Regions from separate parts of the Homo sapiens genome. Here regions 1, 3, 4 and 5 are each linked to region 2. The links come from fine-mapping of genetic effects on gene expression. A gene starts in region 2. Each other region holds a variant in brackets. All regions are shown on one strand. Distances are between the middles of the regions. Region 1 overlaps ABCG4 (ATP binding cassette subfamily G member 4). Region 2 holds the start of CBL (Cbl proto-oncogene). Region 3 overlaps CBL (Cbl proto-oncogene). Region 4 overlaps NLRX1 (NLR family member X1). Region 5 overlaps CBL (Cbl proto-oncogene).

The links. PIP is the estimated chance that this variant, and not a neighbour inherited with it, causes the effect.
Region 1: its variant is the best candidate, but not a certain one, in a credible set for the expression of CBL in whole blood (INTERVAL, PIP 0.76).
Region 3: its variant is the best candidate, but not a certain one, in a credible set for the expression of CBL in thyroid (GTEx, PIP 0.77).
Region 4: its variant is the best candidate, but not a certain one, in a credible set for the expression of CBL in whole blood (TOPMed, PIP 0.71).
Region 5: its variant is the best candidate, but not a certain one, in a credible set for the expression of CBL in sigmoid colon (GTEx, PIP 0.55).

Annotation. Positions count from the first base shown.
Region 1 is chr11:119,156,176-119,161,345 of GRCh38, reverse strand. ABCG4 (ATP binding cassette subfamily G member 4) reads right to left here. Exons shown (of 15, transcript NM_022169.5): 7 at 4,894-5,017; 8 at 4,668-4,782; 9 at 4,332-4,474; 10 at 3,014-3,112; 11 at 2,621-2,789; 12 at 2,417-2,517; 13 at 961-1,119; 14 at 690-808; 15 at 1-465. The coding sequence ends at 240. Among named protein-coding and RNA genes, the nearest start is that of ABCG4, 9.7 kb to the right of the region's middle. RefSeq lists enhancers at 2,276-2,775, 4,199-4,699. The variant A/G (reference allele first, on the strand shown) is at 2,207.
Region 2 is chr11:119,203,769-119,208,935 of GRCh38, reverse strand. CBL (Cbl proto-oncogene) reads right to left here and starts at 2,597. Exons shown (of 16, transcript NM_005188.4): 1 at 2,324-2,597. The coding sequence starts at 2,518. RefSeq lists silencers at 2,080-2,139, 2,330-2,519, 2,590-2,979, 3,020-3,089.
Region 3 is chr11:119,291,738-119,296,737 of GRCh38, reverse strand. All of the region lies in intron 12 of CBL (Cbl proto-oncogene), which reads right to left. Among named protein-coding and RNA genes, the nearest start is that of MIR6756, 19 kb to the left of the region's middle. The variant G/A (reference allele first, on the strand shown) is at 2,319.
Region 4 is chr11:119,176,716-119,181,885 of GRCh38, reverse strand. NLRX1 (NLR family member X1) reads right to left here. Exons shown (of 10, transcript NM_001282144.2): 7 at 1,598-2,193; 8 at 629-715. Among named protein-coding and RNA genes, the nearest start is that of NHERF4, 6.2 kb to the left of the region's middle. The variant G/A (reference allele first, on the strand shown) is at 2,071.
Region 5 is chr11:119,273,250-119,278,249 of GRCh38, reverse strand. It overlaps CBL (Cbl proto-oncogene), which reads right to left. Exons shown (of 16, transcript NM_005188.4): 4 at 4,226-4,382; 5 at 3,297-3,418; 6 at 2,116-2,253; 7 at 406-493; 8 at 1-84. Among named protein-coding and RNA genes, the nearest start is that of MIR6756, 37 kb to the left of the region's middle. The variant A/G (reference allele first, on the strand shown) is at 2,831.

The DNA of each region.
Region 1 (5,170 bases), 48 kb after region 2:
AAGCTACAAACCGCATCAACTTGGGAAGACTCCTGGGCATAGTGGGGAGGGCTGGAGCCCCCACTCCCAGAGCCCAGGCTGGGAGCGCAGTCCGACAGCCAGCCTGTGGAGGAGCCAAGGGAGGAGAGGATAGCCCCGCCAGGAACCAGTGCCCAAGTCTATAAGGTTAAAACAGTCCCAAAGGGCTGGGACTGGGGGCTTCCTGCTGCAGGGGCTGGGGTACAGGCTGGGGCAAGCCTCTATCTCTCTGACTTGACCCGGTAACGCAGCACAAGGTAGGCCAGCAGCCGCAGGGCTAGGAAGAAGATGCCCAAGACCAGGAAGTCCATGTAGAGCTTGGCATCCTCCACATCCAGCGCTCGGAGGATGCTCTGTGGCTCCCGGAACGGGCAGCGTTCCTCTAAACATGTCAGGTCTCCTCGCTCCATGCCATAGATCGTCAGGATCACACCCTCAAAGCCATACCTAGGCAGGCAGGGATATCAGATGGGATACAGCACACAGGGTCCCTGCTCTCTGAGAAAACTGCCAGAGCCCAGCTGCAATGCTGTCATCCCTGGGGTGCAGCCAGGGTGCCCCTGCCCAAAGGATAATGGGGCAGGCAGCAGACTTGGCACAACCCAGGAAGCCCTGGGTATGGACTCCTCCAGGGAGGAGCAGAGGCCAACGAGGAGGGCAGGGGTACTGACCTGACATAGGAGAGATAGGAGCTCCATTGCAGGTAAGTGGGGATGGTCTTGAAGCTGACAAAGAAGCCGGAGAACAAGAGGACAGGGATGGCGGTAACTGGGCCCACAAAAGTGGCCACCTAGAGGGGAAGGGAGGGGGCCAGGCCATCATAGGGGTGACCAGGACAAACCCAGGTTTCCTAGAGCTCCACCCTAACCCTTGCACCAGGCCCTGCTTCCTCCCACAAGACCTCATCCCGCCTTGGGAATTCCCAACTGCCAGCCCTCCCACCTGTAGGGAGTTGGAAGCAGCTCCGATCAGCAGCCCCAAAGATTGGGCCACCAAGGCGGTGGCGGTGGCCAGGGCTGAGAAGAGCAGGAAGCGGCTGGTCTCAGCGGGCTGGCCCGTCATCCAGTACACAATGCTGCAGTAGACCACCGGACACACCACCTGGGGAGTGGGCACGGGCTGGACAGTGGACTTCAAGCCAGGGGCACAGCAGCCAAGACCTCCACTCCACCCAAGGCTGGGCCTCTAGAATACCTATTCCCAGGGTGTCCATCCTGCCTCCACATTCTTGTTCAAGCTGTCCCCCAGATTGACACACGTCCCCTTCCTCCCTGGCCATATGACCATCACTTATCTCGTCTCACGTCTTCCGTTTGGTCCACCCTGACTGCTTCAGGCACGGTGACTCTTCCCTTCCCTGAGCGCCTAAAGTCCTTCCCACCTGGACCAGCTTATTCGTTATATTGTTAAGTAATTAACTCTCCATAGGAGAGCCATTTTGTTCCCCCATGAGCTACCAACTCCTAGGGGGCAGGGTCTGAGCTTACTAAGTACAGTCATCCACTGCTCAAGGGCATCCAACCAAGAGCCAACCAGGCCAAAGGTCCAGCTTGTGCTCTTCTTATTAAGCCAAGCATCCTGTGACGGTGTCCACCCTGAGGAAGGGGCACCTTTTTCTAACTTGCACAGATGTGCCCTATGGATTACTGGTGGCCCTGATGCTTGGAACAGGGTGGTATTGGCGGTAACAACAACCAGCTAACATTTGCTGGGCACTTCGTATGTGCCAAGCACTATTCTAAGTACTTTATATACATTAACTCATTCAATTCTAACAATCCTGAGGTAGATACTATTGTCATTCCATTTTATAGATGGGTACACTTTAGCAAAGAGAGTGATTTGCCCAAGATCTTGCAGGTAGCAAGTGGCAGTAAGAGCCAGAGAGTACACCATTTTCTACTGCCCCTAATAAGAGTTACAGAGTCATTTGTAGGGTTATTGCCCCCAGTAGCTGGGACTACAGGTGCACAACACCAAGCCTGGTTAATTTTTGTATTTTTAGTAGAGATGGGATTTCGCCATGTTGCCCAGGCTGGTGTCAAACTCCTGAGCTCAAGTGATCCTCCAGCCTCGGCTTCCCAAAGTGCTGGGATTACAGGCGCAAGCCACTGCGCCTGGCCCTATAGGGTTATTTTCATCATTTTCTGTTTGTTGTCAGTTGTCCTCACTAAAACATAAGTTCCAC[A/G]TGGTCAAGACTACATCAGTCTAGTTCAATGCTATATCCCTAGGGCCTGGTACAGAGCCTGGGCTATGACAGGTACTCACCATCTATTTGCTAAGTGAGTAGAAGGACAGCAAAGGAAGGAAAGTGACAAGTTTGAGGGAGGCAAGAAAGCAAGGATAGAAGGAGCAAGACAAGATGGAGGCAGTGGGCAGGTGGGAGGAAGAGGCCCACCTGAAAGGGCACGTCAGCCATGGTCTTGGCCAGGTAATACGCTTTGAGGCTGTACCAGTAGTTGAGGTGCTCCCTCATGAAGACCGCCATCTCTAAGGGGACTGAGGACACAGGCTGCTTAGGCACACCCGGCCGACACCCTGGCCCCTGCCCCAAGCCCCAGCACCCACACCCTTGCCCCATGCCCAGGGCAGCTCAGCTCACAGGTGAGCACAGTTGGCATGAGGGCGGCGAACATGAGGAACAGCATGGAGAAGAAGAGGCAGCCGGTGTTGTTGAAGACCTTGCTGGCATCGTCGCCAATATGCAGGTAGAGGAGGCCGATGAGCACGCCAATAACCACGTGGGACATGAACCGTAGGTGGGTCAGGACCTTGGGAGGGGTCATCACCAGGAGAGGGATGTGTTACAGGCCAGGGCAAGCCACAGAGTAGACTTGGAGTAGGAACTCGGAGCTGCCCTCACAGGCACAGAGACCCCACAGGCACATTGCAGGGCTGTGAGGGAGGGTCCCCATTCCCATTTCAGCTGCTGGGATCCTACAGCCCAAAAGGTCAGGCCTGTGCCAGCCTCCTCTCCCCCAGCCTGACGCCTCACCGTGTCCCTGAGGATGGACAGGAAGGTCCTCTTGAAGAGGATGCAGAACTGTGTGAGGGTGCTGGTGGCAAAGGTGTGGCTTTCAATGGGATCCACTTCCTGGGAAGAAGAAATTGGATCGGGATCAGGTGAGCCTACCCCATTCACCCACAGAACACCCAGCTCAGTGAATGAAAAACCTCAGAGCTCTTCCCCAGGGTAGGGGTCCTCCAGGTCTACAGAGAATCTTGTACCATTAAGTTGTGTACCTGAAAGCTAGGCTTAGGGGTATGAATCAGAGCAAGATTCAGACACAAAAAGGGGGCAAAAACTTGGGAGGGAGGAGATGGAAAGAAAGTAATGGACACCCGTGGTGGCTAATAATAGATCGGTTACTTTTTTAATCCATCAAAACACATGAACTCTAAGGGTATAATTCCTTTTTTGTTTTGTTTTGGGTTTTTTTTGTTTTGTTTTGTTTTGTTTTTGAGACGGAGTCTCGCTCTGTCGCCCAGTCTGGAGTGCAGTGGCGCAATCTCAGCTCACTGCAAGCTCCGCCTCCCTGGTTCACGCCATTCTCCTGCCTCAGCCTCCCGAGTAGCTGGGACTACAGGCGCCCGCCACCACGCCCGGCTAATTTTTGTATTTTTAGTAGAGATGGGGTTTCACCGTGTTAGCCAGGATGGTCTCCATCTCCTGACCCACCCGCCTCGGCCTCCCAAAGTGCTGGGATTACAGGCGTGGGCCACTGTATCCGGCCAGGTATAATTCCTTTATGCCACCAATTTTACAGTAATGTTATTTAATAATGATGATAATGACAACAATAACAACAAAAACTAATCAATCTGGTTTTCAGGGGTTACAGTGTCTCATTTAAGGAAGAGAACTAGCACTGGGCAGACGCCTGCTGTACCAGCTACAGTGCTAAGAGCTTTATGTGATTATCTAATTAGTCCTCCCAATCACCCTGTGAGGTGAGTATCATCATCTCTAAGTTAGAGAGAACAGTAAGCCACACTGGCCACTAAGCTGGGGACCATGTTGATCTTGCTTACCAGATGGGCACTATGCCAGGACCGAGGACAGCACACTGTAGCTGCTCAACAAGAACTTGCTGAATGAATAAGTCAATGAGGAAACTGGAGCTCAAGGAGGTTAAATAATGTGCCTAAGGTCACAGTGCTGTTCCTAGTAGGTCGATTCCAAGTCCTAGGTTCTTCCTAGCACCCATTGGTTGCAATGCCTCTGGGGAACAGCCTCTTTGGCAGGGCCACTGTCCATGGTCCAGTCTCCCCTCCCCAACTATGCCTGCTCTGCCCTCTCCACCCCTACTCACCGGAGGACAAGGAGGGCATGGGGCAGGGACCTCGTTCTTCTCAGGGCTGCTCTTCTTCTCAGCCATAGCGCACAGCCCATTCTGCACAGCCCTGAACAACATGGGGTTCAGGTCTCCATACTCGCCAGAGGCCACCTCGATGACTGGGGACACAGAGTGGAGAGCTCAGTTTAGATTCACACTCACTTCCCAAGGGCAAGTCAGTCCCGCCTTGGGTGTGTGGGGAAGGCAGGCGACGGTGAGATCTCTACCCCTAGGAGGCCTGAGTGCAAGACCAGAGACCCCAGGTTCGGCCCACTGCTGTTTCCCAGCCCCTACCAACAGACCCCCACTCACTGAAGTCAGCCGGGTTGTGGTAGGTGGGGCAATGCAAGCCGAGTCCCTTTAGATAGGGGATCAGGTTGGTGACCACGCCTTTGAAGATGCACTGACCCTGGCTCAGGATGTAGAGCTGCAGCAGAAAGAGAAGGGTAAGGAAGGAACAGCGGGCCAGGCACCCCTACTGACCCCCTTCCATCCCTCCATCTCAGGCCAATCCTCCTTGAGGCCTGGAGACACTCACCTTGTCAAACATCTCAAAGAGCTTGGCACTGGGCTGGTGGATGGTGCAGATGATGGTACGGCCCCCCTGTGCCAGGGACTTCATGAGGGACACCACTTGGAAACAAGAGGCGCTATCCAGACCACTGTCCAGAGAGAGGCCACCAGGGGGCCACGTGAGGTGGGTGAGGCCAAAAGAAGGGAGTGTCTGGGGCGGGGCAGCTGCTGTGAAGGGGATGAAGCTGGCAGGAAGAGGGCACTCTGGCCGCATCTGTATCCTTTACGGTTCAGGCACTTGG
Region 2 (5,167 bases):
AACTATCAAACCTGAAAAGCAATTTGAGTCTAAACTTTGAGTCCTCTTTATTCTTCCCAAATAATTAAACATTCTGCAGAATAAATCAAAATTCAATACACATACTTTAAATAGATGAAGGAGTAAGACTTAAGGGAGGATTTTATTTGGGCTACCTTGTAGAATAGGACTATCTACAACTTACTCTGTATTTATAGAAACACTTTAATAAGAATACAGAATACTCTTATTCTTTAAGAATACAGGGCCAGGCCCAGTGGCTCACACCTGTAATCCCAGCACTTTGGGAGGCCGTGGCGCATGGATCACCTGAGGTCAGGAGTTCGAGACGAGCCTGGTCAACATGATGAAACCCCGTCTCTACTAAAAATACAAAAAATTAGCTGGGCGTGGTGGCGCGCACCTGTAATCCCAGCTACTCGGGAGGCTGAGGCACGAGAATGTCTTGAACCCAGGAGGCGGAGGTTGCAGTGAGTCGAGATCGCACCATGCACTCCAGCCTGGGTAACAAGAGCGAAAAACTCCGTCTCAAAAAAAAAAAAAGAATACAGAATACAGAAACTCTTTAGTAAACAGATTATTCTTAAGCAGAGGCCACTAATCAACACAATTTTGATTGTACTGCACCCACATGTCTGATACGAGACACTCATTAGAAAAGTATTTTTTCTATGCCAGAGTAAAATTTGTAGTCCTTAACGATAAATCCCTAAAAAGCAAACTAACAAACTTTAGCATTTGAATATCTTCGATGTGTTTTTTTTAAAGGAGTCGACACATTTAAAGTTTCCTTTACACACCTAAACTTTCTGTAAGGATTTTATTATAATTTCTAACAATAAAATTAGTACTACACCACCAATATAATCAACACACGAATACTTGTGTCATTAATTACAATACCAATTATTTAACATGAGAAAAGCCAGCCCTAAAAAGGTGGCTATGAAACCACTGGCATGCACTACTGGAGTGTTAATTCACACACAGGACTTATTAAGCATTTAAATTGCACATTACATTGGCTAAGTGCTTCATAATCATTTTATTAGCGGTTTCTAGTCCAAAGCAACCCATGAAGAACTTTACAGAAGAGGAACCGAGGCCCAGGGAGGAACCAAAGAAAACCAAATTTTACCCTGGAGGAAATAACACCATTCTCTTAAAACGTGCCAGATACTTCTAATCACTTTTCATACGCAATATGAATTTTGTCAAAGTAATTAATTAAAGAATATGAAAAATACCAAGAAAACGTATTGAATTCTGACAAAGCGTCCGACTGCTTAAACAGTTAAATACTTGAGACTGACTACATTTCATCATATAGACACAACTATAAGGAAGTAAAATTCTCCCAAATGACAAACTTAGTGGCTAAATATAAAGGAGTTATTTTTGTTCGCACTTGCAAAAAGCAAACAAACAAAAAAGCGTAATCAAAGAAGCTCAACGAACAAGTTTAAAGTCAGGACCTGTAATAAGGAGTCAGAACCGTTACCAGAAAAAAAGAACCCAGCTCAAGCGATGTAGTAGGGAGGAAGTTATTAAGAAGTCAGAATCTGCTGCTGCTTAACAGGCTCAGCCAGTCCATCTTTCAGAAGATAATAGTTCTAACCAGAACTTGTGGTTTAATCAGTGCATATCTCAGCACCAGCAATGGATCACATCCAGTGTTTCTGAGGGTAACAAAAAACTTGAGCCGGCGCTAGATGGGGAGGAAAGTTCTTTCCTTGCCTCACTTAAACATCAATATGTCTTTTATCTTCGTGTTACATCTTAATGAGAAAGGACTATACTCTCACCCAGAGCACAGCTTCCCTGAGAGCTGTCCTGACCCCAGCCAGGTTCCTCAGTCAGAGCCCATGAACCTAATTCCCTAGTCAGATCTCACCCAGCCAAGAGCCCCAGCCGGTACATCACTCTTCCTCACCCCCTCCCTGCTAACCTCCCAGGCCAATTCCGTGACCTACATCCCTACACCCTGCACAGAGCCCCAAACTCCGCACCCCTCATTGTACTTCCGCCCCACTGACTTCCCAGTTAACCTTCGCCCCAGCCCCCACTCCATCTTTGTCTGGCTACCCCAAACGCGGCACCCCAGCGTTCCCCGACTCCCAACGGCAGCCCCTCCCCCACGCCGCCCCCCACCCTCCCGGCCTCGTCCCTGCCCCCACGCCCCCGGCCGGTCACCCCGGCTCCGCGCCTCCCCGGCTTCACCAGACCCGTCCCCTCCCCCGCTTCCTCCGTCCGCTCGTTCCCCTCCCCGCGGCCCTCCGCCCACGCCCACCCTGCAACAGCGGGCGCTCAGCCGGCCTTTCACCTTGTCCATGAGCTTCCAGCACTTCTCCACCATCTTCTTGTCCACCGTCCCCGGCGGGTGGGGGCTGAGGTGGTGGTGGTGGTGGTGGTGCGGCTGGAAGGCGTCCTTCATGAGCCCAATCAGGCCACCCGAACCCGAGCCCCCGGAGCCGCTGCCGCCCCCGGCCCCAGAGCTCTTCTTCACGTTGCCGGCCATGGCCTGGGCAGGGTCGGAGCCCAGGCGGGTCCGCCGGCTCGGCTCGACTGCGAGCGAGGGAGAGAAGCAGGGCGTGAAGGAGGGGCCTCTCCCGGCCGCCGCCGCCGCCGCCGCCGCCGCCGCCGCCGGCTATCCGGGCGGAGGGAGGAGCGGCCGTGGGGAGGGGAGTGGGCGGCGCCGGGAGTGCGCGGGACGCGCCCCTTCAGAGCGCGCGAGCCCGGGGCGGGCGGGGCGCGTCCCGGAGGCGGACCGGCTTACTGGTAAGCTCGGGGAAGCGGCCGGCCGCGGCCGGACTGGGCAGCGACGATCCCCGGGCCACCGGCTTCGAGCAGCTCGCGTGCCCACAGCTCCCGGAAAGCCGCGGCCAGGTTTCTGTGCCCGTCTTCCCCGCCCCTACGCCGGGGCGGGGCGGGGCCAGGCTGGGGCGGGGTCGGCGGAACCTTTGGGCCTGCGCCCTCTGCTGGAGAAACGGGGAAAGGAGCGGCGGGGGGTTGGGGAGTAGGTCCAAGGTGGAGTCTGCGCAGTAGCCAGAAACCAAGACTTCCATGCTCCTTGTGGGCGGGAGGTTGGCGCTTCTGGGGTGGGTCATGGGAATGTTTAAATTAAGACAGGTGGCGATGGAATGGAAGAGTCCTGATGTCAAGTCTTTCCCCACCCCTGACAAATGAGGAAATCGAGCTTAGAGTTATTTGTTTATTTACACTGTGGGAGGATGGTGGGAGAAAAAGGAAAGTTATTTCTCCACCCCTTATTATTTTCAATTCTTCATTAAGACACGACCAAGGACAGGAATATGAATGCTGCGGCCCATTCCAGCCGGATTAGGCCCCAGAAAGCCTTGAGACACTCAAGCCAGGACCTCTTCTTCCAGGCCCTTTGACCTCTTGAAAAGAAATCACTTCCTTTTTTTATTTTTTATTTTTATTTTTTTGGCTTGTGAAGACTAGTTACGTTTCTGGGAATTGAATCTCAAACATGTATTTAAGATTCTCCTACTCAGAGCATTGCACCACAGGTCGGCGCCGCCAGCATGAGGGCCCCCTCAGAAGCTGACCTGCTGCTGGCTCCGCCCGAGGGGGTTCTCTCTCCCGCCCAGGGAACAGAAATGCTGTTCCTGGTCACTTCCACTTCTCAGTCAATTACACTTCTCTAATGTAAAAGTTCCGTTGGAAGAACTTTGAAAATAGGAACTTCCCTTCCAAAGAGGGAAGTGCCCTGCCCTAATTTACTAATTCTGAGCCTCAGTTTTGGGAGTTTGCAGACCCAGGTGTGTCAGTATCAGTTCCGCCTTCGATCCCCCTCCAGGCTCTTCCACAAAGCCCTTGACAGATTAGGGAGTTAAATTTATCCGGTGCTCCTGTAAAGGGGAAAATATCTTTGAATGCAGGGACCATTCAGACAGGCATCCTGGGTTTGCAATTTAATCGCCTTTATCTAGAATTGATTTTGGAGTCAACATTATAATTTACTATCAGAAGAATTTCCTTTTATCATTTTCCATCCAGGAAGAGAAGAATCTACAAAGGGAAAATCTAGGCAAAGCTCCATCCCTTAGTGCCAACACCTAGTTGCAGGTCCTCCGTTTCTTTTCCCTGGACTATTGAATATTGAAACCTTTTCCTGTGCCTTCAATTCATCCTGCCACCATAGGCTTCCTAAAGTATAGTTCAGACAGCATCGCAAAAAAACTTTAAACACCTCCCATTGCCTCGGGAATAAAATTGACAAGTTGCTCTAACTCCAAGCTAAACAACCTTGTAGTTTTATACTACTCCCTGGTACACATGTCTTATGCTAGCTGACTCACCAAGTCATCAAATACAATTATTTCTTTTTTATTTATTTATTTATTTTATTTTATTTTGAGACAGAGTCTGTCACCCAGGCTGGAGTGCAGTGGCACAATCTTGGCTCACTGCAACTTCTGCCCCCCGAGTAGCTGGGATTACAAGTGCCCGCCACCACACCTGACTAATTTTTGTATTTTTAGTAAAGATGAGATTTCACCATGTTGGCCAAGCTGGTCTTCAACTCCTGACCTGAGGGGATCTGCCCTCCTCAGCCTCCCAAAGTGCTGAGATCATGGGTGTGAGCCACCGCACCTGGCCAATTCTTTCTTTTCTCATCACCGTTACTCAGACTATTCCCTTATTCCATCTGCCTGAAGTATGCTTTAAAATCCAATCCATTCGGCCCAGCACAGTGGCTCACACCTGTAATCCCAGCACTTTGTGAGGCCGAGGGAGGCGGATCACCTCAGGTCAGGAGTTGGAGACCAGCTTGGCCAACATGGTGAAATCTTGTCTTTACTAAAAATAAAAAAATGAGGCCGGGCGTGGTGGCTCACGCCTGTAATCCCAGCACTTTGGGAGGCCGAGGCAGGTGGGACACGAGGTCAGGAGATCGAGACCATCCTTGGCCAACATGGTGAGACCCCATCTCTACTAAAAATACAAAAAAAATAGCTGGGTGTGGTGGCGCACGCCTGTAATCCCAGCTACTCAGGAGGCTGAGGCAGGAGAATCGCTTGAACCCAGGAGCCAGAAGTTGCAGTGAGCCCAGATTGTGCCACTGCACTCTAGGCTGAGCGACAAGAGTGAGACTCTGTCTCAAAAACATAAATAAACAAATAAATAAATAAAGTTAATA
Region 3 (5,000 bases), 88 kb before region 2:
ATGTCACTTTCAACTGACCAAAGGTGCAGCTTTTATGCTTCAGAGGTGATATACTGGGCTAATCACCTGAGATACTGGTTAGTCCTAATCCCCCACAGAAGTTTCATTATAGAGTCCCAGGCCCTAGAGTTAGAGAAACGGCAAGATTTTTTCTGACAATGTTAGAACTGTAAACTAAATTCCAATTCTAAACTCTACCTATGGTTTCAAGGAATGCATAGCTTGTCAAAAGCTTTCTCAAACTCCTTGTTTTATATAAGAAAAATTTAAAATAGAGAGAGATAAAGCGACCGCAGTTAGCGTAAATTCTGAGGCTAGATCCCAGATCTACTGACTCCCACATCAAGGATCTGGCTGTTATATCCACATGTAACTTTCACCCAGAAACTTTGGAAACAAGACTTCTGCCACCGCATGAAATGAAATGAAAAAACTCCCAAGAAATACAAAAACACCCCACTAAATTGTAGGGGGGAAAAAAAGACACACAAAAACCTACTTCTTGGAGTGTGAATTTGTGTTTCTCCTCCCTTCCTATTATTTTTGCATATCCTAAAGATGCTACAAGGAGCATCTCTTTCGTTTGTCTGCTTGATGCTTAGTTTTCCTAATTATAAAAGCAACACATTTATAATACACACATAAGTGCTATAGAAACTTAACACAGAACATAGAAGTCCCCTTTAATCTCACTTGAGGTTTTTTCTTATATCTACATATTACTTTTATTAGGTTGGTGCAAAAGTAATTGTGTTTTTTGCCGTTAATGGGAAATATCCACTTAAGATTTGTGCAATGCATGCTGAAGTTCTGAGGCAGAAGTGTATTGGTATCTACAATTTACTTTGAAAACATCAAAAGACAGACATATAGTCTGATAAAACAAGTATAATAAAATGCTAAAAGTAGAATCCAGGTGATCAGTATATGGGTGTTCACTGTAAAATTCTTTCACCTTTACTATCTTTGTAACTTTTCACAATAAAATGAGATGGCGGGAGGACAGTCCATATTCAGAAAGAAACACCTAGATTTTTCGCTGGAGCACAGTGGCATGATGACAACCCACTGCAGCCTTGATCTCCCGGGCTCAAGTGATCCTCCCAACTCAGCCTCCTCAGTAGGTGGGACTAGACATGTGCCACAATACCAGGCTAATTAAAAAAAATTTTTTTTTTTGTAGAGACAGAGTCTCACTATGTTGCCCAGGCTGGTCTTAAACTCTTGGGTTCAAGTGATCCTCCCGCCCCAGCCTCCCAAAATGCTAGGATTACAGGCCTGAGTCACCCCACCCATCCCTAGTTTGTTCTTAATGTGGTATTTGGCCACACGGTGTCAGTGAAGGTGTAGGGAAATGAATGGGTACTTTGTTACAGAGCTGTAGAAATAAGGAATTGATACGTTTCTGTTGTGTAATTCAACAAAAGTATTTACCAAACATGCATACTCTTGGTCTCAGAAATTCCATTTCTGAGAATTTTCCCTAAGGAAACCATCAAGAACATTCACTGCAGCATTATTTATAATGCTGGAAAATTAGGCAATAACTTCAATACCAAATAATAATGTACTGAATAAATACTGAACCACACAACTGTGTCCCCAAGTGCCTTAGAGGTTCCAAGCCGGAGCCACGGAAGCCTACTGCTGCTTCTACTACAATAGATCTGTTCTTATCTATTTTACAAACTGAGATTCCACTTTAGTTACACTGATGTATAATCGTGAAATAATTTGAAAATCATTGCAACAGAATATGTAATAACATGCAAAGATGTTCAAGATATTTTTAGTGAAAACCAGCAATGACAATATGATTTCATACAAGGAAGAATGGCAATGAACATGTATCAAATTGCTAACTATTGTCTGATAGGATTACAGGTAACATTTATTTCTTCAGTGTTGCTTACCTATATTTCCTTTTCCTTTTTTTTTTTTCCTTTTTGAGACGGAGTCTCACTGTGGCACCAGGCTGGAGTGCAGCGGCGTGATCTAGGCTCACTGCAACCTCTGCCTTCCAGGTTCAAGCGATTCTCCTGCCTCAGCCTACCGAGCAGCTGGGACCACAAGCACATGCCACCACACCCAGCTAATTTTTGTATTTTTAGTAGAGACGGGGTTTCACCATATTGGCCAGGATGGTCTCGATCTTGACCTCATGATCTGCCAGCCCTGGCCTCCCAAAGTGCTGGGATTACAGGCGTGAGCCACCGCACCCAGCCTGCTTACCTATATTTTCTAAATTTTAGTTAACATGTATTATTTTTGTAAAAAGGGCCATTAAAAAGGCAATAATTTTTTTTTTTTTTGGAGAC[G/A]GAGACTCAGTCGTCCAGGCTGGAGTGCAATGGCGTGATCTTGGCTCACTGCAACCTCCACTTCCCAGATTCAAGCATTTCTCCTGCCCCAGCCTCCCAAGTAGCTGGGAGTACAGGCACCCGCCACCACACCCAGCTAATTTTTGTGTTTTTAGTAGACACAGGGTTTCACCATGTTGCCCAGGCTGGTCTCGATATCCGGACCTCAAGTGGTCCACCCACCTTGGCCTCCCAAAGTGCTGGGATTACAGGCGTGAGCCACCGTGCCTAACTTTTAAAAATTTTAATTATAATTCTCTGTTAATAAAGTCCATAAAATACATAATTGAACCTCCTTCTCACAAAGCATGTTGGCAATATATGCTTTAAAAGAAAGAAGACACTGGAGAGCAACCAGGCAGCCACGACTTAACAGGCTAAGATTCAAGAAAGAATACATTAGAGTAAGCCCTGTATTAGGGGTTTTGAACTAGGCGTTTAAAGTAGTCTCAATGGGCTGGTGAGAATGCTACGATTTAAATATGTCCCCCAGTTTCACATGTTGGAAACTTAGTTACCACCTTCATATGCTGATGCCTGGTTACAAGGCAGCAGGAAGGCCCTCACCATGCCAGCGCCATGCTTTTCAACATTCCAGCTTCCAAAAGCGTGGGCTAAATAAACTTCTTTTCTTTATAGATTACTTAATCTCAGGTATTCTGTTATGACAACAGAAAACAGACTAAGAAGAGACAGGAATTTTGGGGTATAATGACAGCCAAGGTATAAGGGACCAAAAAATACAGAGGAGGGAACAGCAGAGAAGTATACCTGAAATGCCAGCAATTTTCCCTAGAGCTATTACAAATCCCTAAACTGTTTACGCTTGGGGCTAGATTTTGAGAAAACAAGCAGAAAGCAGCAATTGAAAAGCTAAATAGATATTTTGGCTGTCTTGCCAAGCTGGACAGAGTTGGAGTTACGTATGGCCATTAAAATAATAATTTATGTGTTCAATAAAAAAAAGAAGATGGGATGGGCACGATGGCTCACGTCTGTAATCCCAGCCCTTTGGGAGGCAAAGGTGGGTGGATCACTTGAGGTCAGGAGTTCAAGACCAGCCTGGCCAACACGGTGAAACCCTGTCTCTACTAAATATACAAAAATTAGCCAGACGTGGTGGTGGCACATGCTTGTAATCCTAGCTACTCAGGAGGCTGAGGCAGGAGAATCGCTTGAACCTGGGAGACAGAGGTTGCAGAGAGCCGAGACTGCACCACTGCACTCCAACCTGGGCGACAGAGTGAGACTCTGTCTCAAAAAAGAAAAAAAAAAGGATGGAATCGATACATTTTTAAAAATCACATGGAAATACTAGAACTTAAAAATACAACACAGACATCCCCAACTTACAATTTTTCAACTTTACAATGGTGCAAAAGTAATAAACATCAAATACACTTCTCTACTTACAATGGAGTAATATTTGGAAAAACCCAGTCGAAAATACTGTAAGTCAAAATGCACTTTCAATTTACAATGGGTTTACTGGGACATAACCCCATCTTAAGTTGAGGAGCAACTGTATCGAAAAATAAAACTGGGCAACACAGCAAAACCCCGTATCTACACAAAATACAAAAATTAGCTAGGTGTGGTGGCACACATCTATAGTCTCAGTTACTAGGGAGGCTGAATAAATTTAAAAATCAAAGAAAATAGGCCGGGCGCAGTGGCTCACGCCTGTAATCCCAGCACTTTGGGAGGCCAAGGCGGGCAGATCACGGTCAGGAGATTGAGACCACCCTGGCTAACGTGGTGAAACCCCGTCTCTACTAAAAAAATACAAAAAATTAGCTGGGCTTGGTGGCGGGCGCCTGTAGTCCCAGCTACTCGGGAGGCTGAGGCAGGAGAATGGCATGAACCCGGGAGGCGGAGCTTGCAGTGAGCCAAGACTGCGCCACTGCACTCCAGCCTGGGTGACAGAGCAAGACTCCACCTCAAAAAAAGAAAAGAAAAAAAGAAAATAAAGTATGCCAAGAAAAAAATAATGGAAAAAAAAAAAAAGACATCAGCATAAGAGCTCTCGGAGACATAGTGAAAAGGTCTAACATTCCGGAAAAGGTAGTCCCAGAAGAGGAGGACAAAGAGGGACTGCAATATTCAGTCTGTTTTCAGGAAAAGTGGCTGACAATGTCCTAAAACTGATTAAACATATCACAAACTAAATAAACTTTACCAAACTTACGGAGGTTTGGTTCTAGTTAGTGTCTGAAAAAGAAAAGGAGGCCAGGGTGCAGTGGCTCATGCCTGTAATCCTAGCACTTTGAGAGGCTGAGGCAGGTGGATCATTTGACATTAGCAGTTCGAGACCAGCCTGGCCAAAATGGTGAAACCCCATCTCTACTAAAAATACAAAAATTAGCCAGGCATGGTGGCACATGCCTAAAATCCCAGCTACTTGGCTGAGGTGGGAGAACTGCTTGAACCTGGGAGGCAAAGGTTGCAATGAGCTGAGATCACAGCATTGCATTCCAGCCTGGGTGACAGAGTGAGACTCTGTCTCGAAAAAAAAAGTATGAAAACTTATGAAGGATTAAAAGATAAATATAAACAAAACCACAAAGGAAGATACAGTAAAACTGCTGGGACCCAGAGCAGGGGAAAACGTTTTGTAGGCAGCTAGGAAAATAAGCATTATCA
Region 4 (5,170 bases), 27 kb after region 2:
GCAGAGGAGTCAGAGTAGGGGAGCTGGCCTTTCCTTCCCTCTTCCCCTGACTCCCTTCTTATCTATTCCCTTCCTTTTCACCATTTCCGTTTCCCTTTTTCTGCCTTTTTCACCCCCTCCACAGCCTCTGCTTCTCCCTCCCCTCTGACTCCCCTATCCTTCTCCCTGCTCTTCCTTTTTCTCTCCTCATTTGCCTCCCCTTACACCAATCAGAAACTGGGAACCCAGGAGCTCAGGTTCCCCACATATCAGTCAACACTTAAGGGGTGTCTACTGAGTGCCCAGCATTAGGGTCCTCCTCGGGAGGCTGCAAGAAAAATCCTGGGAGGGGATCAGTGGCACTGTTACCAGGCAACCGGCCTAGGTATTATTCCACCCTCTCTCCCCACCTCCCCCAGGCTGATTTTAGCCACGTGAGAGGTTTCTTAGCACCCATTACAGGTGGCATGTTTCCCTGCTGCCCTGCTGCTTGCAGTGGACCTGGGGGAAGTGGAGGGGACAGGTCAGGGCCTAGACTCTCCTCCATTTACTATCCCTTGGGTGGGTCTGTGCCAAGTATGTCAGGAAGCAGGGAGCTCACCCTTGACCTTAGCTGGCCACCAGGATGCCCCACTCCCAGGTCACTCACCGCAGTGTGGTAATTTGGCACTGGTCATGCAGCAACAGGTCTCGGAGGTCCTTGCAGGCCTCAGGGCCCAGGCTGTTGAGTTGCAAGCTGGAGCAGAAGGTGGCCAGAGGGGAGGTGAGAGACCAGGGAGGGAATTCAGCAGGCAGTCTGTCCATCTACCATGCCTTTTTTTCATCAGCCTGCCTCTGGGAATCTATACCTGCTTCCCCTTTTTTGAGAGACAGGGTCTCACTCTGTTGCCCAGGTTGGAGCACAATGGCATGATCACAACTCACTGCAGCCTCAGACTCCTGGGCTCAAGCAATCCTCCCACCTCAGCCTCCCGAGTAGCTGGGATGATAGCTACATGCCACCACACCTGACTAATTTTTTAATTTTTTGTAGAGACAGGGTCTTGCTATGTTGCCCAGGATGGTCTCAGACTATTAGGCTCAAGTGATGCTTCTGCCTTGGCCTCCCAAAGCAGTGGGATTACAGGCAGGAGCCACCATGCCTGGCTCCTCCCTTCTGTTGCTCCTGTCACCTCCACCCAAACTAGACTTTTTTTTTTTTTTTTGAGACGGAGTTTTGCTGTTGTTGCCCAGGCTGGAGTGCGATGGCATGATCTCAGCTCACCGCAACCTCCGCCTCCCAGGTTCAAGCAATTCTCCTGCCTCAGCCTCCCAAGTAGCTGGGATTACAGGCATGCACCACCATGCCTGGCTAATTTTGTATTTTTAGTAGAGACAGGGTTTCTCCATGTTGAGGCTGGTCTCGAACTCCTGACCTCAGGTGATACGCCCGCCTTGGGCTCCCAAAGTGCTGGGATTACAGGTGTGAGCCACTGCTCCCGGCCCCTAAACTAGACTTCTTCATCCCACCTTCTGGTCACTCATCGGTACCTCTGGTTTCCCTGGCACTTTCTTTTCCCACTTCTTCACCTCCAACCCTCTTCCCTCTTCATGCCTGTGCATGAGGATAGGTCCTCACCCCAGCTTCCGGGCACGCAGGAAGACAGGCAGGAGTGTGCGCAGCCCAGCAGGATCTAGCTGGCAGGAGGCCAAGTTCACCTCATCCAGGGCATGCCTTCCGCTGCCCAGCACAGCTGCCACCACTGTGCACTTGACTGGTGTCATGCGCACACCTGCCAGGTTGAGCTGACGCAGGGAGCTGAGCACCTCAGCGGAGAAGCGCTGGTTCTGGAACTCATAGTGGAAGAAGAGGTGGTCAAGGAGCTCTGATGGGGGCAGCACCTGCCGGCCCAGCTTGCCCAGCTTCTTCTTGATGGCCTGGGCATTCTCCAGGGCATCCAGGTTCTTGATGGGGCAGCCAAGCTGAGCTAGCACAGCTCGGTTGTGGGCAGAGAGAAGCCCCCCCATGAACATGGGGAAGAGCTCGAAGACTTCATCCTCAGGGGGCTCATCTGGGTGGCGCCGGGGGCCCTCCACGCCCAGGATACTGGC[G/A]CCCATCTGGTCCAGAACATCATCGTTGTAGTAGTCCTCCTCTCGAAACATCTCCAGCACCATGGCCTGAGCCACCGCCTCCCGGCTTTTACCCACCATGCGCCCAAACACTCGTGGAACCACCTGAAAAAGAAGCAGGGGAGAGTCACTGTGGCCTTCCATGTGCCTGTTCAGCCTTCAAGGTTCAGCTTAAGGTACACTCCCATGACTGCTCCAGCCCTGTGATCTCCCCTTGAACTTAGCATAATTTGTCTGATCATGCTACTCCCCTGCTGCGACACCTTCCATGGCTCCCTACTGCCTATGTGGCAAACTCCAAACATTTAGCCTGGAATATGAAACGTTTCTTAAAACTAGAGATGGGGTCTTGCTGTGTCACCTAAGCTGGTCTTGAACTTCTGGGCTCCCTAGCTTAGGCCCCCCAAAGTGCTAGGATTATAGGCATAAGCCACTGCACCTGGCCCAAAACTTTTCATAATTTGGCCCTAATTTGACCTTTCCAGGGTCATCTCTCAACACCTGTCTCATGTGCTGCAGACATTAGGAACTTCTTTCTCTTTCCCAAACACCCTGATACATTTTCAAACCCAGGAGGTGGTGAGAAGGAATTAGCATGTATTACACACTTAGTTTGGGACCGGGCTAGGTATCACAAATACATCACCATCTTCAACATGCAGTTCCTACTGCTTTAAGGGCCTGTGTGATCTGGGCCCTGCCGACTACGATGCCTTCATCACAAGCCTCTTGGCCCCACTCGCTATGCTCCTGCCCTTTCGGCTTTTTTCATCTTAACAGTGCCAAGGTTTTTCCTCCTTCAAAGCCTCCATAGGCCAGGTGCAGTGGCTCATGCCCGTAATCCCAGCACTTAGGGAGGCCGAGGTGGGAGGATCACTTGAGCCCAGGAGTTCTAGACCAGCCTGGGCAATGTAGCAAGATGCCATCTCTATTAAAAAAATTTTCTTAATTAAAAATAAATTAGCCAGGCATGGTGGCATGTGCCTGTAGTCCCTTGAGCACTGGAGGTCAGGGATGCAGTGAGCTGAGATCACACCACTGAACTCCAGCCTGGGCAACAGAGCAAGACCCTGTCTCAAGAGAAAAAAAAAAAAAAAAAGCCTCCAGGGTGCTGCCCTTTCCTGGGGCATTTCCCCTCCCCCAACTTCTTCCTTTGGCTAATGCTACAAGGGTCAGACGACATGCCCTTCCACAAAGAGGCTCTCCTGACCCCGCAGACCAGTTCCCCCACTATACACTTTCATGGCATCTGGGGCTCCTTCTTCCCAGGCATTTGCTGTAATTTTTCCTTATATGGTTACATTGATATTTTTGTGCTCAAACTGTGCAGGAAGTAGCAGTTTCCTTCTGGGAGAGGAGCTCAGACTAGATCAGAAAGGGCTGAAACCTGTAGTTTTGTTAACTGACATTTCCTCAGATTCTAACACATTGCCTGGCACACAGCAGGCACTCAAATATCTGACAAAGAAATAAATGTTGGGGGTTTGTGATATCTTCCCCCATTCCTGCAATGGTTCTGAAAGGGAAGAAGGGTCATTCCTCTGGCAACAAACCATGACGTTGTTTTGTGGCACGTCCTTTAACATCTGGGTTTTTTTTACTTTTTAATGTTTTAATTTTTATTTGTTTAGAGACAGAGTCTTGCTGTGTCACCTAGGCTGGAGTGCAGTGGTGTGATCATAGCTCACTGTAGCCTTTAACTCTTAGGCTCAAGCGATCCTCCTGCCTTGGCCTCCTGACAGCTGTGACTACAAGTGTGCCCCACTGCACCTGGCTTGTTTTCATGTTTATATGTGAGGTTACTCTCATAGAGGTGATAGTGCCCCTTCTCCAACACCAACCTGTGACAGAATATGTCACCCTGTGAAGCTGAATCCACAGGATGGTGAATAAACAGATGGGCTCAGTGCTCTGCCAGGGCAACCCTCCCTCCAAGAGGGCTTGGGGGTGCAGGGCTGACAATTCTGCTGGGTTTTCAATAACTGGGGGCTTTCTGAATCCCCTCGGGAGACTGCAGCCTCTCGTTGCAACTCAGGTCCGGCAGGCACATCCTCAAGGCGGGGTGGCCTCAGCAGCAGCTGTGACCTCCTGTCGGAGGTGATGTGTGAGAAGGGGTGGGCTGCCCGAGCCTGTTTCTTTGTTTCTTTCTTTTTTCTTTTTTTTTTTTTGTGAGACAGAGTCTCGCTCTGTCACCCAGGCTGGAGTACAGTGGCGCGATCTCAGCTCACTGCAACCTCCACTTCCTGGGCTCAAGAGATTCTCCTGCCTCAGCCTCCCGAGTAGCTGGGATTACAGACACGTGCCACCACACCCGGCTAATTTTTGTATTTTTAGTAGAGATGGGGTTTCACCATGTTGGCCAGGCTGGTCTGGAACTAAGTCTGTTTCTATGTGTGACAAACAATTAAACAGCATAGGCCGGGCGTGGTGGCTCACTCCTGTAATCCCAGCACTGTGGGAGGCTGAGGTGGGTGGATCACCTGAGGTCAGGAGTTCAAGACCAGTCTGGCCAACATGGAGAAACCCTGTCTCTACTAAAAATACAAAAATAAGCCGGGCATGGTGGCAGGTGCCTGTAGTCCCAGCTACTTGGGAGGCTGAGCTGGGAGAATCACTTAAATCCGGGAGGTGGAGGTTGCAGTGAGCAGAGACGGTGCCACTGCACTCCAGCCTGGGCGACAGAGCGAGACTCCATCTCAAAAAAACAAACAAACAAAAAACAATTAAATAGCACTTACCATGTCCTAGACCCTGAGGATGAGTTCATTTCATCTTCATATTAGGCCAGTGATATAAGTTCTAGTATTATCTCCATTTCACAGATAAGGAATCTGAGGCACAGAACTAAGTAACCTGTCCAAAGTCTCACAGCTAATAAGTAGCAGAGCCTGGATTTGAACTCAAATAGCTGAGTTACCAAATCCCTGTTCTTAGCCCTTATGCTTTGGTGCCTATAAAAATAAAAAGTTGGCTGGGCACAGTGGTTCACACCTGTAGCCCAGCACTTTGGGAGGCCAAAGTGAGAGGATCACTAGTGAGACCCCATCTCTACAAAATTAAAAATTTTTTATTTTTTAATTTA
Region 5 (5,000 bases), 69 kb before region 2:
AATCTTTACATCCTTATCATTTTCAGCACATATTTTACATAGTTGGAATGTGGAGCCCATCTCACAGTATAATTCATATTGTTCCTTTGATTAAAAAAAATTAAAAGACTATTAGTTGAATAAATAACTGCAATTATAAATGTTAACAGAAAAAGTGAAGACTTGTTTCCTATACAAATTTTGCTTATATAAAAATGTCACAACAGTGGTTTATTTTTTATTAAACCAGAAAGCATCTAGTCTGGGTCCTATTTTAAGCTCCAGGGTTTAAAGTGAAACCACATACACACAAATTCACTAATCTAGTCAATGGGTTCCAATGAATTCAATTATGCTGTCAGTTCTATAAAGAATATACTAAAGCTTGTGTCCAGTGATATGGTTATCATGTGAAACAAAACTCACCTGGGTCACTTTGATATGGTCTTGGGGAGTTGGTTCACATAAGCCAGTCAGATCAGGATTCTGATTTCGTCCATCAGGAAACAAATAGCTGTAAAGAGTAACCAACCCTGGGTTTTATTTAAGCCAATTTGCCAGTGCTTGCTAATATAGACAAATGGAATCTGGGAGTTTCTCCATTCTAAAAGGGCAACGTGGTGTAAGTATAAAGATCAATCTTACTTCAAAAAAAAAATACTTCCAAAAAATAATACTTCAAAAAAATAAAAAACACAGAACAGTTTAAAGATATTCTCCAAAAACTATTATTCCTTCTCCAGGTAACAATGCCATAGGCTCTATCTTTTAATCAAGGGGTTGGTTAGCAAGCTTTTCTGTAAAGGGCCAGATAGAAAATCATTTAGGATTTGTAGGCCACATTAGTCTGTGTCACATATTCTTCTCTGATTGTTTTTTTCAAAACGACTCTTAGGAAAAGCTATCTTGGCTCCCCGGGGGAACAAACAGGTGGCCCATGGGTCACAGTTTACCAACCCATTTTTAATCAATGGATGGCCACCAGATAGAAATTCTTTATGTGTGTGTGTGTGTGTGTGTGTGTGTGTGCGCGACAGATTCTTATTTTTTTTTTGAGGTTGCAGTGAGTGATCTTGGCTCACTGAAACCTCCGCCTCCTGGATTCAAGTGATTCTCCTGCCTCAGCCTCCCAAGTAGCTGGGATTACAGGCACCCACCACCACGTCCGGCTAACTTTTTGTACTTTTAGTACAGACAGGGTTTTGCCATGTTGGCCAGGCTGGTCTTGAACTCCTGACCTCAGGTGATCCACCCGTCTCGGCCTCCCAAAGTGCTGGGATCACAGGTGTGAACCACTGCACCCGGCTTAACTTCTTAGTTTAAACTGCATTTGCTTTTGATCAAAGAAGGTTTACAGGTTTAAGAAAATGAGAGACACCAATTTAAAAGCAATGTAACAATATGCAAATTAAGCTACTGAGATCATCTACCAGGGAGATCCACAGTTTCTAGCATCAAACTGTTCTGACATTTGGGGCAGCACTCCTTTCAGTCCCAATGCTATTGTAAGTAAAAGATAATGTATAATATAAAATGTATTTTCCTAATCACTTCAAAACACAAGCTAGTTTTCTGCCATCTGGTCAACTGTTAGTATTTTTAAGTGTTTACCAACTGATAATTAATTTGAATTCTCAAAGGAATAGCAATTCTGGAATAAATAAGGACTTAGTTATAAATAGCAGCATAGGTTACAGTAGCCCAAGGCCTGAAGAAATGCTGCTGAACAAAAGCGAAGTGAGGATGAAAGCAGATGAAGGCCACTGAGGCCTATGGCTATTAGGAACATTGAATCACTTGAATGCCGACTAGTTAAATAACTGGTCAAATTTCCTGCTAATTGGTATATTTTAAAACCTAACACAGGCTTGAAAATAAGTTAACATTTGGAAAAAAGAAAGATAAAGTTTATTTATGGTAATAACTGAAGTGGTAGAGAATAATTTCACTCATGGAATCCCTAAAAAAGAAAAACAAAAGTCTTCCAGGACCTGAAGGTCAAATCAATATCATCTGTTAATATTTTCCTGAATCTTAGTCTGCAGTTTAAGAAACCTGGAATAAAGTCATTAATGATGAGGTTGGACAGCCCCTAAGTTCCCAGACTCTAACAGATGGTATGCAGTAGGTACTCACAAGCCTTCCCTGAAGCCATCAATCAGTGCTTGGAAGAGAGGTTTATTGTGAGGGATTGTCTGGAGAATGTTCCCATCAGCAGTAACATACCCAATAGCCCACTGACCCAGACGAGTACAGCTCAGCCGGAAGATATAACTATGAACAGACATAAACAGAAGCTTTAGTAGATTATGCTGGTATTACGGTGGAAGGCAAGGCAAGATACAGACAAAAATCAAAAGAACCATCAAGAATAACAATAACTTTCTTCCTTTCTTTCTTTCTTTTTTTAAGATGGAGTCTGGCTCTGTCACCCAGGCTAGAGTGCAGTGGCACAATCTCAGCTCACTGCAGCCTCCACCTCCTGGGTTCAAATGATTCTCCTGCCTCAGCCTCCTGAGTAGCTGGGACTACAGTATGTGCCACCACACCTGGCTAATTTTTGTATTTTTAGTAGAGATGGGGTTTCGCCATGTTGGCCAGGCCAGTCTTAAACTTCTGATCTCAAGTATCTGCCCACCTTGGCCTCCCAAAGTGCTGGGATTACAGGTGTGAGCCACCACACCCAGCCAAGAATAACTACTTCTGAGCTTCAAGTCAGTGACAAGAAAAAAGAAAGAAAATATTTTTAAAAAGAGAGTAACTTCTTCCATGACTCCACACCAGAAGCAAAAGACACATAAACTCTATTCTTTTTTTGTTTTTGTTGTTTTTGAGATGGGGTTTCGCTCTT[A/G]TTGCCCAGGCTAGAGTGCAATGACATGATCTCGGCTCACTGCAACCTCCACCTCCCAGGTTCAAGTGATTCTCCTGCCTCAGCCTCCTGAGTAGCTGGGATTACAGGCACCCGCACCACACCTGGATAATTTTTGTATTTTTAGTAGAGACAGGGTTTTACCACTTTGGCCAGGCTGGTCTCAAACTCCTGACCTCGTGATCTGCCCGCCTCGGCCTCCCAAAGTGCTGGGATGACAGGCGTGAGCCACTGTGCCCGGCCATAAATTCAATTCTTAAGTGGCCTGAAAACATTTATCAAATTATAGGATCTGAATTAAGTCAATACGTCTGATAAACAGGTATCAATCCTATTGCAGAACCTTGGCTATTGCGAAACTAATTAAGGTCATGTTTCTTCTATACTAGCAGAAGTCTCAAGATAACGAAATTCAGAAGAATAAATCTCTTTGCGTCATTGAACTGACCTGCCAGGTTTGTGAATGAATTTCTGGAGCCGAGCTTTCACTTCGTCATACGTCAAAAAAGCCATGTAGCCAGGATGAGTTACAGCAAGGCTGTTCCAATTCCTGAGCAAAGAGGACCAGGGCTAAAGAAACAAGATCAATCACAGACTATTCAGGTCAGATGTACAACCAACTCAGAGGGCAATGAGAAAAAAAAAAAACAACACCAACTCTCAGTTCATTGTCAGAAATTTTTAATTATACCATCACTCAGAGAGAAGACACATGTGTTCAGGAGATTAAAAACTCTGAAAAGCTACGAAGAAAAGAATATATGCTTATAGGGAGAAACTTGACACAAAATGAAAATTCTAGAATTTGTAAAGCAGCTCTAATTAACAGTAGTGGGGTTGAACAACAACAAACTGAAAACCAGGATAGGGCCTATAGGTGCAACTAATAAGTTCCAAATAAATGTGTATGCAAATTGGCACAGACAACACCAGAGAAAGCATTATTTTTAGAGAAAAAGAAAGGAGTTGTTTTTGAAGCATCTAAACATCTCAATATTAACAGTCAATTTCAATAAAACAGGAGAAACAGTTGCAAACATACACAAATATCCAATATCAGAAAACTAATATATTCATATTCTGGCCATTCTACAAACATTAAAATGATACAAAAGAAGAATATTCAATAACAAGGAAAGATGTGAGGAGAAGAAAGCAGTTGGTATAGCTGTCATTTTCACTATATATACATACACACACATACATATATTTTTAATATGAGATAGTTTTAATCTTTTTTTTGGCATAGTTCCTAAAATGAATTAAAATACTTTCATACAGACAAAAACCCCAAATGTTATTTAAAAAAAAAAAAAAAAAGCTTTCTCTTCACCGAAGTAGCAGTAACCAGTTTAGTCAACTTTTTTAGTGTCCTACCTGAAAGAGTCGGGTAAAGATGTCAAATTCAAAAACCGAAATATAATCATTGCAGGTCAGATCAATAGTGGATTTCAGAGCCATGGCCTCCAGCCCAGAACTGATGGGATGCACTTCATGTAGAGCCTGTCGAAAGCTCTTCCAAGGGACTATTGTCCTGGGGAGGGGGTGGAGAGGAGGCATAAAGTGAAATAACAGAGATAATTCCAGGCATCGCCATAATCAAGGAAAGGAAGGAGAGCCACATTAAGCTCTCAATACCAATTTCAATTCTCGTAATTCAAAATACAGGTCAACTTCTTTAAGAAAAGAAAGAAGGGGACCAGGAGCCATGGTGCATGCCTTTGGGAGGCCCAGCACTTTGAGAGGCCAAAGTGGGCAGACTGCTTGAGCCCAGACTGGGCAATATGGTGAAACTTTGTCTCTACAAAAACAAACAAACAAACAAAATTAGCCAGACTAATTAGTTCCAGCTACTCTGGAGGCTGAGGGGGGAAAATCACTTGAACTTTGGAGGCAGAGGTTGCAAGTGAGATCGTGCCACTGCACTACAGCCTGGGCAACAGAGTGAAACCTTGCTGCAAAACAAGAAAAGAAAAATAAAAAATAATTTACAAATAAAGACCAGGTCTTGTAATGTCATCCAGGGTAGTAGTCTCAAACTTCTGGCCTCAAGAAATCCTCCTGCCTTGGCCACCTAAAGTGCTGGGACTACAGGAGTGAGCCACTGTGCCTGGCCAAAAATGAAGGCCTTTAAAGAGAAACTTGGGCCTAA